Linked DNA regions of Homo sapiens: all the other regions are linked to region 2. Evidence: fine-mapped expression QTL. A gene starts in region 2. Each other region holds a variant in brackets. All regions are shown on one strand. Distances are between the middles of the regions.

Region 1 (4,244 bases), 29 kb after region 2:
GTCATAAAAAGATACTGGTCTTTGTCCCTGGCTCCTAACATAGAGATCCTAAATCTCTTATAATTTCTGGAGTGATAGGGAGTGATAAAAGCTTCTTTTGTTCTAATGAGGCAACCCTTGGCTGGGCCCTTAGATAGCTTCAGGGTGGGGGCTGGTCACCAGAAGACTAAGCCTGGATTAGAAGCCTGGAACCTCTGGGGAGAGGAGAGAGGCTGGGGATAGACTTAATAATCCATCATGCCAACATGACTAAACCTCCATGAAAACCTCTAAATGATGGGGTTTGGAGAACTTCCGAGTTGGTGACCACATCCACATGCCAGGAGGGCAGTGCACCTTAACTCCGTAGGGACAGAACCTCTGCACTCAGGACCCTTCCAGACCTCTCTGTATGTACCTCTTCATCTGGCTGTTCATTTGTATCCTTTGTAAGAAACCGCTAGTGGCCAGTGTTCTGAGTGCTGTGAGTCATTCTAGCAAATAATCAAACCCAAGGAGGGGATTTGTTGGAACCCCAGACTTGGTAGCAAAGTCAGAGAGAAATGTGGGTAACCTGGGGACCTGACATTTGTGAGTGGCAAGTGAAGCAAGGCAGTATTGTGGGACTGAGTCTTTACACCTGTGGAGTCTGATGCTAAATTTAGGTATTGTCAAAATTGAACTGCATTATAGGACACTCAATAGGTGTCAGAATTGGTTTGCGTCAAGAAGAAAAACCCTTGCGCAATCTCATAAGCCAAAAAAAGATGTTGAATTGTTTTATTTTTGCATTTCCTTATTAATGTGGACAAATAACTTTTTTCATGTATATATTGGACACTGAAGTGACTTCTTCTGTAAACTGTCTGTTCTTGTCCTTTGCTGGTTTTCCTACTGAATTGTTTGTCTTTTTCTCACTGGTTACTATGAGCTTTTTGTATATTAAGTATATTAGCCTTATGTTTAGGTTTTGTGTAGCAAATATTTTCTCCTGGCTTATTGACTTTTGTCTTTGTGGGTGGTTTCTTTTTGCCTTGCCAATAATTTAAAAAATGTACAATCAGATATATCAATCTGTTCCTTTATGGTTCTTTGATTTTATGTTATGCTCAGTAAGATCTTCTCTAAGGTTATAAAAATGTTTGTTTCCTCCTGGTATATTTATGATTTTACATTTTTAGGCCTAAATTTTTTAACTGTCTGGATTTTATCTTGATGTGTTTTTTTTTTGGAGACGGAGTCTCGCTCTGTCACGCAGACTGGAGTGTAGTGGCGCGATTTCGGCTCACTGCAACATCCACCACCCTGGTTCAAGCGATTCTCCTGCCTCAGCCTCCCGCGAGCTGGGATTACAGGGGTGCGCCACCATGCCTGGCTAATTTTTGTATTTTTAGTAGAGATGGGGTTTCACCATGTTGGACAGACTGTTCTCGAACTCCTGACCTCAAGCAATCTGCCTGCCTCAATCTCCCTAAGTGCTGGGATTACAGGTGTGAGCCACCATGCCCAGCCAATGCATTTTTTAAAGAGACAACTTTTTAATTTATTCAAAATGTCTAGCTGAATGTTCTAATACCTTTTACTGAATAACTATTCCCCCTTGACTTTGCTACTTTTTATTACATACTGAATTTTTATATTTTCTTGGGTTTTATCCTGAACTCTATCCTATTCCATTGGTTTCTATTCCTATACCATTATCACATTGTTTTAATTACTATTGCTCAACAATATGCTTTATTACTATTATTATTATTTTTGAGACAGAGTCTAGCTCTGTTGCCCAGTCTGGAGTGCGGTGGCATGATGTTGGCTCACTGCAA[C/A]CTCCACCTCCCGGGTTCAAGCAATTCTCCTACCTCAGCCTCCTGAGTAGCTGGGACTACAGGTGTGTGCCACCATGCCCAGCTAATTTTTGTATTTTTAGTAGAGACAGGGTTTCACCATGTTGGCCAGGATGGTCTCGATCTCTTGACCTCATGATCCGCCTGCCTCAGCCTCCCAAAGTGTTGGGATTACAGGCATGTGCCACCGCGCCTGGCCTATTATTTATTTATTTTTTTTGAGACGGAGTTTTGCTCTTGTTGCCCAGGCTGGAGTGCAGTGGTGTGATCTCAGCTCACTGCAACCTCTGCCTCCTGGGTCAAGCAGTTCTCCTGCCTCAGCCTCCTGAGTAGCTGGGATTACATGTGACTGCCACCACACCCAGCTAATTTTTTGTATTTTTAGTAAAGATGAGGTTTCACTATGTTGGCCAGGCTGGTCTCAAATTCCTGACCTCAGGTGATCCACCTGCCTCAGCCTCCCAAAGTGCTGGGATTACAGGCGTGAGCCACTGTGCCCAGCCAACAATATGCTTTATTATCTGATAGAGCTAGTCTCTACTTATTACTCTTCTATTTCAGAACCTTCCTAGCTATTCTTCCATGCTTATTCTCCCTAAGGCATTTTGGTATCATTTTGTTAAAAGTCCTACTTACCATTTCACTTTCTGCATCTGCTCTAAGGTTTCTGGAAGAGTCATTCCCAAACTTTCAGGGAAAAAAAGGGTGAGGATTCCAATCAGGACAGTCAGACTACCCATGACGATGTAGGGCAGCATTCTGTTGTAAGCACCTGTAAAGCCCGGGACATAAGAACATCAATCAGATAGGAGGACTCTCTGGGCACTCTTGAGCATCATTTTGTGAAGTTGGTGAACAGTATAAGAGAATGGATTTAAATCTGAACATTTTCAGAGAAAAAAAAGTAAGCAAAATATCAGTTTCTTTTTGGCAGATGACATTGTGCATGTCTATAATCCTTTTGCATTATCATAAGGCTTTTCATTCTTTCCTGTCAACTGGTATCCTCTAAGCTACTACTCAGTCATGTGTGACAGATGTTCCTTTGGTAGAGTTCTTTGCCTACCAGAGTTCTCCTCTTAAGGTGGAGGTAATTGGAAATGGGGGATGGGAGGACATCAAGGAGAAGGAGGTTAACCAGGATGTTTCAGGGATAGGTTTTGGCTATGATAGGTCTGGCATGACTCTGCTTTTGCCCAAACTAGTAGGCTGCAGTGGAAAGTTAGGTCCACAGGGCTATGAGACTCAAAAAAAAAAAAAAAAAAAAAAAAAACAACTAAGTATTATGTTCACTTCAGATTAAATCAGTAAATTATAAGTATCAGGCACATTCTGTAAAGGCACTGTGTGCCTGGATTTGGCTTCTTTTTGGAGCACTTACATGTCTTGGGTTAATATGTAATCTCTTTGTGAAGCTTTACTCACACAGGAGAAAAACAGATCCTCATCTTGCTTTGCCCCTGTATACATACAGAGCTTACAGAGGAACAGCACACCCATGGATTTCATTTGACCCAAAACATAAGGAAAATATTGTTATTGCAGCTTCTCTGAGGCCTCTGTGTCACTAACAGGAGTAGCTGTGTGGAGTAGGAGACTCTTGGACTCCCTGTCTTATGTACCAGTGTCTGACCACTGGACCATCTGAGCATAGTTTGAAATAGTTTGAAAGTACAGGGAAGGACAAAGGGAAAAATAACACCACTCTGTATAATCTGCTATCTCAGGTGTGGCACAGGGCAACTGTGCAGAATATGTTTGTTAGGAAAATGTTTCTCTTTCTCTGTAAGGGTTTGGATTATACCTTTCCTGAGAATTCATACATGTTTTCAGGTGTGTGTGTGTGTGTGTGTGTGTGTGTACGTGTGTACCAGTAGGTAACCAATTGCCCAATTGATGAGGTGTGTCTGCATTTCTCACCAGTAGAGTCCTTAATGAGGACCAGGCATGGGGTGTCAGATCCTACATCAGATTGAACATGCCGCTGAAACACCTCTGTAGTTTCATTTCAGATTGACACCTTTGAGTATATAAAAACTAAAATTGTCTTCATTACAAAGATATCATAAAGTGAAAATACAAATGGTAAACTAGGAAAAATATTTACAACATATATACAAGGGGCTAATTTCTTCCATTGCAAAGAGTTTGCACAAGTCAAAAAGAAAAAGATGAATACACCTGTTGCAGGAAGTTAGGGACCCCGAAAGGAGGGACTGGCTGAAGCCATGGCAGAAGAATGTGGATTGTGAAGATTTCATGGACATTTATTAGTTCCCCAAATTAATACTTTTATAATTTCTTACGCCTGTCTTTACTGCAATCTCTGAACATAAATTGTGAAGATTTCATGGACACTTATCACTTCCCCAATCAACACCCTTGTGATTTCCTATGCCTGTCTTTAATCTCTTAATCCCGTCA
Region 2 (4,244 bases):
GGCTCCAGGAGGGGAGGCTCAGCACCAACATCCAGCAGGGCTTGAAGCTGTGCCAGGGCCTGTGGCACTCTCCCTCTCTATGAACTCTCCCCTCTCTGTGAACTCCGCCGTCCTGCTGGGTGGTTTCTTGCTGCTGCACTGGGGCCTTCAGCTCACTATTATGCTGAGCTGAACACCCTAGGCTCACGGAGAGGCCTCCTCTTCTGGGAAGCCTTCTCTAACCTGCGAATTGGTCATCTGCACATTTAGTGAGCCTATCTATCAATGAGGGCTATTCACTGGCTACTTACTCAATGCTGCTGAAACTTCAGGGAGCTAGAGTGCCAGTGTCTAAAAAAGACACAAAACACATACATCATTAACATCATGTTCCTACATCCAGCTCCAACAACTGCTCCAACAGGTTCGGAGGGGACAGACAAAACCACCCAGAGGGAAAATCCAAGGGGATGAGAAATGAGAAAGGCTCCCCTACACCCTATGACCTAAGGCTGTATGCTTTAACTAAATCTGGCCGACAGCCTTGCCTCATAATACCTGAGAAAATATTCCAGGTCAACAAGTCACCCTGAACCCATCTTCAGATGAATGGATCTTAAAGAGTGACAACTGACGGCCTGGCGTGGTGGCTCACGGTTGTAATCCCAGCTTTGGAGGCAGAAGCAGGCAGATCACGAGGTCAAGAGATCGAGACCATCCTGGCCAACACGGTGAAACCCCGTCTCTACTAAAAACACAAAAATTAGCTGGGCGTCGTGGCTCACAGCTACTCGGAGACTGAGGCAGGAGAATCACTTGAGCCCGGAAGGCGAAGATTGCAGTGAGCCAAGAACGCACGACTGCGAAGGTTGCAGTGAGCCAAGAACACACGACTGCGCTCCAGCCTGGTGACAGAGGGAGACTCTGTCTCAAAAAAAAAAAAGACTGACAACTGACCATGGGAAAAGGCAAACAATTACTTACAGGGCATGACCAGATTGTCGTTTTTGGGTTGTGGACGGTAGGGGAAGGAGTAACTAGAGGAAAAAGGGAAGAGGCAGTTGTATACACATGCTTTATTTAACTTTTAAAAGTTCAGGAAAGAGAAGTATTTCTTCTCTTCTAAAAAGAAATCAAGAGACTAGAGGAAAAACGGGATAGCCCCTGGCCCAAGTCCTGGCTCTGCTACTTACCACCCCCAACCCCAACTAGAGTAAGTCCTGGACACACAGGGCCATAGAGCATCGCCCAGGGACCGCCAGGACCTTCCTGGTACCCTCTTCAAAGTGGCCATCAGGACGGGAGGCCAGACTGACCACCTGTGCAGGGAGGAGCACACTGTGGCTGGAGGTCACCTCGTGAAGCGTTCCCAAGCCACCTGGCTGGAGGGTCTCCATCGCTAGGGTGTTGACCGTTGGGGGAGGGGGAGTGACAGCGTCCAGTGCGCATCTGGGAGAGAGGAGCTCGGGTTCAAGGACCGCGACAGGTCCTCCGAGCCCTGGTCTCAGCCCCAGCAGGGGCCGGCACCCACCTCGGTCACAATGGTGGACAGGTAGACGTCCTGACTGAACTCCCAGCCATCCAGACAGCTCTCCTGCTCCAGCTGCCCCAGGTCCACGTCGCGCCCCGGCTCCAGCCCAAGCGCCGAGAAGTTGGCGATGGTGGCGAGCCGGTAGCGGCGGCAGCTGTGGGGCACCTCGCGGCCGTCCCGCAGCCGCAGTGGGACAGTGTGGTTGCGCCAGGCGCTGCTCAGGTTCGCGGCGTCCGGCACCCGGCAGCGGTGCTCCGGGGTCGCTATCAGGAACACGGAGGACAGGCCGGTGAAGCCATTGGGGATGATGCTGGCGCTGAGCAGGAAGAAGATGAGGCGCTGGAAGGGCCCCCACTCGCCCAGGAAGGCGGTCACCTCGTCGTAGTCCCGCATGCCGCCCTCAGAGGCCCACAGAGCGCGGCCTGGGGTCGGGGAACGCGGCGGGCTTTGCGCGTGCGCGCGGGGCACCCGCCGCCGACCAGGCAAGCCAGGCAGCAGGCGACCCAAGACCGTCCGCGGAGGGTAGGCTCGCGAGCTGACACCGCCGCCTTGGTCCTGCCGCGGCTGGCCTTACATAGGGCGCACGACCAGGGAAGGTTGCGGGCCTGGGCCGCAAGGCGCGCCCCGCTGGCAGGCAGAGCGGCGCCGGCGAAGGCGGAGCTGGGGCGGGACGCGAGGGCGCGGGGCGGGCCGGGAGTGCACCTGAGGCCCGGGCGGGGCCTGTCCTGGGGACCTGGCGAGGCCCGGCCTCTGCCAGCCAAGCCTGCTGGGGACGACCGAGGTAGCCCGGGCTCGGCTTAGGAAGGCAGCGGGACTCGAGGCCTTGGGGTCCGAGTCCGAACTCGCTCCTCTAGCGCCGGGCGGGGAGCGAGTGGGAGAGCGGCCGCGAAGCTCCAGTGTTGAAAACGCACCCCTCCCAGCTTTTTGCAAGGCCTACTTGGGGGCGGAGGTAAGGAGAAAGTCACTGGCCCAGGGTCTCACAGATAGTTGCTCTTGACACCGCCTAATCTTATAAGAGGGACGGGGATTATTTTGAACCTGGGACTGTTAACTACCCTAGTAGAGAGGCTGGGAGCTATGACTTTTCATTCTAGTCCAGATGCCCTTTCCACATTTTCGTCTGTAACAAGCCATTTTGTTCATGCAGATGTAAAAATTTAACTTCACGATTAACGATCCTAGCCTAGGGTTAAATATTCCCCACAGATTAGTTATTTCCGTGCAGAGTTTATTCAGAAGCTAACTGGAAAAAAAAAAAAAGCAGCGAGGTGATTCTAAAGCAGCAATGTTCCATAGGATAAGGAGCTACATTTGTTATGTTAACTTTTCTAGTAGCCATATTAATAAAATTGCCAGATTTAGCAAATAAAAATATAGGACTCCTAGTTAAATTTGAATTTCAGATATAGAATGAATAATTTTTAAATATTATGTCCCAAGCAGGAATATATAAAATAAAAATGTAACTGGTTGTCCTGTATTTTATTGGGCAATGCTGCATATTTAAAAAGTAAAAATAAAAGATGAAATTAACTTTAATGGTATATTTAATCAAGTATATCCAGAACATGATCATTTCATCATATAATCAATATAGAAATTATTGATATTTTACATTGTTATATGTAAATCATTGATCTTTTTTTCCCCTCCTCATACTAAATCTTAAGAATTCAGTGTGTTTCACAGGTTCTCAGGATTTGAAAAAAAAAAAAAAAGGAATCCAGTGTGTATTTTACAGCACATTTCAATTTGGACTAGCCACACTTTTTATTTTTTAATATTTATTTATTCATTTATTTATTGGAGACACGGTCCCACTGTGTCACCCAGGCTAGAGTGCAGTGGCACAATCATAGCTCACCGCAGCCCTGAACTCCTAAGCTTAAGTGGGCCTCCTGCCTCAGCCTGCTGAGTAGCTAGGACTACAGGCACATGCCACCGTGCCCAGCTAATTTTTTTATTTTTTTTATTTTACAGAGACAAGGCATCCCTGTGTTGCCCAGGCTGGTCTCAGACTCCTGGGTTTAAGCAATCCTCCCACCTCAGCCTCCCAAAATGCTGAATTACAGACGTGAGCCACTATGCCTGGCCAGACTCATTTTTTAAGTGCTCAGTAGCCACATGTAGCTATTGGTTATCTTATTGGACAGCACCATTCCTAAGGCCTTTAAGAATTTGGGCTGCTAAACTTAACAATGCAAGATATTCCTTTTTAAAATAGTAGTGGCTTAGTGATAGAAACAGAACTAAGTGTATATTTTTACAATATAATGTGTTGAGTAAAGAATATTTAATAGTCACTATATTATGAGTTGAAAATAAAGCTACAGAAAGGGAACCTAACCTGGCCAGCAGATTTTTAACAAGGAAATCTAAACATTTGCATAAAGCATAATAGACTTAAAAAAATTATGATAAAGATGTTATCACAGGACTTGTTTGTTTCTTTATACTTACTATTCACTATTCTTACTTCCTGAAGATGGATGGTTATACCTTCAGCAATGTACTTAAATCCTTCTAACATCTTATGTGAAGTTATAGTTCTTATCTAGAACTAACTGAAAAAGAAAGCAAAGCTTCTTGAAAATAAACTCCTTTTTTGTGTGCTAAAATATTATTTTAATGCTTCAAAAGAAATGAAAGCTTTTATGAGAAGAATGTTGACCTCTGTCCAGACCAAACAAGATGAAGAAGTCTTATTTTAACATTTGAGAAATATCAGTTGGGC
Region 3 (4,244 bases), 180 kb after region 2:
TCTATCAAGTGCATACAGGAGTCTGTTTAAGGACTTTAAAGATGTAATTCTTTGTTTTCTGGCTTATACCATTTCTGTTGAAAAGTCGCTATCTGGTCCTTTGTTGTTCCTTTGAAGGTGATTTTGCCTTCACCTGGCTGCTTTAAAGATTTTTTTCTTTTTGGTTTTCAGTAGTTTTACTATGGTGTACTTAGTATGGGTTTCTTTTTCTTTTCTTGCTTGGCATTTAGCTTCTTGAATTTCTGGGTTGATGTCTGATCAATTTTGGAAATTTCTCAGACATTATATCTTCAACTATTGTTTCTGTCCCATTTTTTCTCTATCTGCTCTGAGACTTCAGTAATCTGAATGTTAGAACTTTTCATAGTGCTCTATATATCTCCAGTTCTTGTGTCTCTCATGCTTTTTTCTTTGTGTTTCAGACTAGATATTTTATACTGATCTGTCTTGCAATTCATTTATTACTTTTGCTGCTAAACCCATCTACTGAGTTCTTAATTTCATTTTTCTTATATTTCTCAGTTCTAAAATATCCATTCATGTCTTTTTTTTTTTTTTTTTTCCTTGAGACGGAGTCTTTCTCTGTCACCCAGGCTCGAGTGCAGTGGCGGGATCTCAGCTCACTGCACCCTCTGTCTCCCAGATTAAAGCAATTTTCCCACCTCAGCCTCCCAAGTAGTTGGGATTAGAGGCACGCACCACCACACCCAGCTAATTTTTGTATTTTTAGTAGAGATGGGGTTTTGTCATGTTGGCCAGGCTGGTCGCAAACTCCTGACCTCAAGTGATCCACCTGCCTCAGCCTCCCAAAATGTTGGGATTACAGGCGTGAGCCACCACGGTTGGCCCATTCATGTCCTTTTAATGGATTTTAACTCTCTGGAGAATCTGTCTTCTGTTTTCTCTGTGTTTTTCTCGGACTGATAAATCAGTTATGTGAATTTTTTTGTCCGATAACGCCATGATTTCGATTTTCTATGGCTCTCTTTCTATTGTCTTTTTCCCTCCTTAGTTTCTGGTCATTTGGTCCACTCTGTTGATATGCCTGGCAATTTTTGATTGAATGTGTATGACAAATTGTAGAGCCTCTGGATGGATAACCTCCTGCACAAAGGGCTCACCCTTTCCTCTACTATGCAGAGTGGGGATCAATCACCTTAATCCAGTAAGGATCTGAGCTGACTTAAAATTAAGACTGGGTGGTAGTTTTCTTAAGACTCTATCTCTGGTTTACCCTTATTTCCCCCCTTATAGGATGTAGTCCTCCAGGATTTTCTAATTGAGAGCCTAGTGTGTTCACTGGATCTGTTTCCACTGGCAGTTCCTCAACTCTAATTCTTGTCTTCTCAGTACCAGACTCAGCCCAAAAAATTTATCCTCCTTTTCAAAGAATTTGAATTTTTGAATCTAAGCAGATATTTTTTGCTTACCTTCTTAGCCTTGCATTCTGCACAGCGTCAGAATTCAGAAAATGCCTCAGTGGGTAAACAGGCTGAGTGGCCAAGTTCTCCACTCCTCCCTCTTATTCAATATTCTGAGAAACTACTGGCTAATTTTGGTTTTTCAATGCCCCTTGACACTGTCAAAAATTATTTTGGTTTCTCTGCCTCTTAGTAGTTGCCCATTGCTCTGGATCCTCATTCTTACCCCATGGCTACAATCAGTAAATAATAATAATAATAATAATAATTATTATTATTATTATTATTATTATTATTTTGAGGTGGAGTCTGGCTCTGTCACCCAGGTTGGAGTACAGTGGTGCAATCTCGGCTCACTGCAAGCTCCGCCTCCCGGGTTCACGCCATTCTCCTGCCTCAGCCTCCCGAGTAGCC[G/T]GGACTACAGGTGCCCACCACCACGCCCGGCTAATTTTTTGTATTTTTTAGTAGAGATGGGGGTTCACTGTGTTAGTCAGGATGGTCTCAATCTCCTGACCTCGTGATCTGTCCGCCTCGGCCTCCCAAAGTGCTGGGATTATAGGCATGAGCCACCACGCCCGGCCAGTAAATTGTTTAAGGATAAAAGAGACTACAGACTTTTGGCTCACCCACAAGATTTATCCTTCTTCAGGATCTTGATGCTCAAACTCTTTTTGCTTCAGCAATTGACTGATGTCTTCCAACAATTTTAAGAGATTTTATTCAGCTTTATTCTAGGAATGAAAATTGGTCTACCATAAGCTACTCTATCTTGGAAGTAGAAGTGGCCTATTCATTTTTTAAAAAATCATTTTTCCTATACTGATACAGAAAACCTTATCTTTCATATCTTCTTTTGTTACCTAGTATAACAAGACGCTTCACACTCATCTTGAGCATTTCTGACATTAAGCATGGAATCAGCCGTTAAAGAATCTTATTATATGTTGATGTCTGCCTATCAATCCCAGCATGGTCCTGGGAACAAGCATGAGATAACTTCTGTCTTAGAGCCAGGGCACTGCTTTCAGCAATCCTTATTAATTGAGCTTGGCATTAATATGTTCACTAGGGCAGTAAAGAGTTATTGAGCGTTTCATTATGCATTTGGTACTGTGCTAGGGATGTTACAGTCTATTACTGCATTCAGCAACTCTTCAGAACGAATACATAAGAAGCAGAACGTCAGAAAGGTTAGGTAATATACCTGAGGTCACATGAAGTCTCATTGCTGGTAAGTGGAGGACCTGGGAATGAAACTGTGGCAGCTTCCAAAAGCCTTTGCTCTAAAACAAAATTTATATTTTCATGCATTTAACAGTTATTAAAGATTTGATGGGGAAACATAAAGACTGTCTTTATCTTTAAAGAATTCTGAGCAATGGAAGGGACTCATAAATAGGTGTGTGAAATGTGAGAAGTCTGGTAACAGAGAATGTGCTTGAGGAGCACAGTAGAGTGAAGGTCTACTTTAACCAAGAAGTTGGCACTACAGTAGGCACCGTTGGAGCTGGGTCTTGAAGTATGAGCAGGAATTTGTTTACTGTGCTATCCTAGTTTAAAATACATGCACGTGGCTTAAAAAATAAGGGACAAAGGAAATTACCCTAAATAGTTGCTGTCCCACCTTACTGCCAACTCCTAGTCCCCCTTCCTAGAGGAACCTTTTCAAATTATTTTAAATTTTTCTGCCTATTAAATGCTTATAAAATGCTGTTCCTTGATTTTTCCACTTCAGAAATTTGAGAGATGATCATTTAGTTTATATTCACTATCTCCCATGGTACCTCCCCCTGCCTTTGCCATTTTTTGATAGTTATATTTTGTATAGTCCTCTCTTGTTTGCCTGGCAACATAAATTTTTTTGTTTGGTTAAAACTAAGATGGTGAGATGAAGATCTAAACTAGAATTTTACCAAACAAATGATCACTATTGTCTAGCCAAGTTGACACATAGAATTAAGTATCATATACCCTTTTGTCTCCCAACTGCCGGTCAGTTATGCTTTGGACATTATTTTAGTAGCCATAGTAAGTTGCTTCTAAAAGTGAAAAACACAAATGTTATGTTTCTTAATTTCGTTGAATTAGTCACTATAATGTTGATGTAGCTAATCATAAAAAGGAATTTGTGTCTTATTTGTCTAATAGAATTCAAAATGAATTTATAATGTATATAATTTGATAGGGCTACAATAACAAAATACCACACACTGGGTGGATCAAACAAAAGGAATTTGTTTTCTTACTGTTCCAGAGGCTAGAAGTCTAGGATCAAGGTGTCAACAGGTTGTGTTTCTTCTGAGGCCTCACTGCCTGGCTTGGTCTGTGTGTTGTCTATGTCACCTCTTGGTCTATGTGTTGTCTATGTCATATCGGATTAAAGCCTGCACATATGAACTCATTTTACTTTAATTATGTCTTTAATGCCCTGTTGCCAAATACAGTCACATATTGGGTTAGGACTTTAGCATATGAATTTTGGGAGAACACATAAAACTACTAGGAAATCATGTTAGATCTGATATACTATTGAGACTAAAGCAAAATACTTTTCCTTACTCTTTGTACATCAGATATAGCCCATCATGAACAAATGTATCTGATTATTAAGTATGTTTGCATAAGAATAATGTCATAACACTAGAAGTTTTTTATTTTGAGAAAAGAGATATAGGCTCTTATGAAATTATTAATAAATTGAAAAAAGATATTGACATAAAATATCTTTGAGGCCATGGATATAATTGGACAAATACAGCAGGTGTGTATATAAGGGTGGAAAAGCCATTATTTTCCCCCAAAATGGTTATGCCAAATAAGTTC

The links. PIP is the estimated chance that this variant, and not a neighbour inherited with it, causes the effect.
Region 1: its variant is the best candidate, but not a certain one, in a credible set for the expression of SLC22A5 in monocytes (BLUEPRINT, PIP 0.87).
Region 3: its variant is the best candidate, but not a certain one, in a credible set for the expression of SLC22A5 in monocytes after LPS (Fairfax 2014, PIP 0.83).

What each region holds. Positions count from the first base shown.
Region 1 is chr5:132,338,913-132,343,156 of GRCh38, reverse strand. It overlaps SLC22A4 (solute carrier family 22 member 4), which reads right to left. Exons shown (of 10, transcript NM_003059.3): 9 at 2,457-2,592. The region is part of intron 5 of MIR3936HG (MIR3936 host gene); the gene reads left to right. Among named protein-coding and RNA genes, the nearest start is that of MIR3936, 25 kb to the left of the region's middle. The variant C/A (reference allele first, on the strand shown) is at 1,803.
Region 2 is chr5:132,367,632-132,371,875 of GRCh38, reverse strand. SLC22A5 (solute carrier family 22 member 5) reads right to left here and starts at 2,166. Exons shown (of 10, transcript NM_003060.4): 1 at 1,511-2,166. The coding sequence starts at 1,903. It overlaps MIR3936HG (MIR3936 host gene), which reads left to right and starts at 1,960. Exons shown (of 8, transcript NR_110997.1): 1 at 1,960-2,032. RefSeq lists a silencer at 1,964-2,283.
Region 3 is chr5:132,185,755-132,189,998 of GRCh38, reverse strand. It overlaps P4HA2-AS1 (P4HA2 antisense RNA 1), which reads right to left. Exons shown (of 3, transcript NR_047470.1): 2 at 2,626-2,704. Among named protein-coding and RNA genes, the nearest start is that of P4HA2-AS1, 3.0 kb to the right of the region's middle. The variant G/T (reference allele first, on the strand shown) is at 1,836.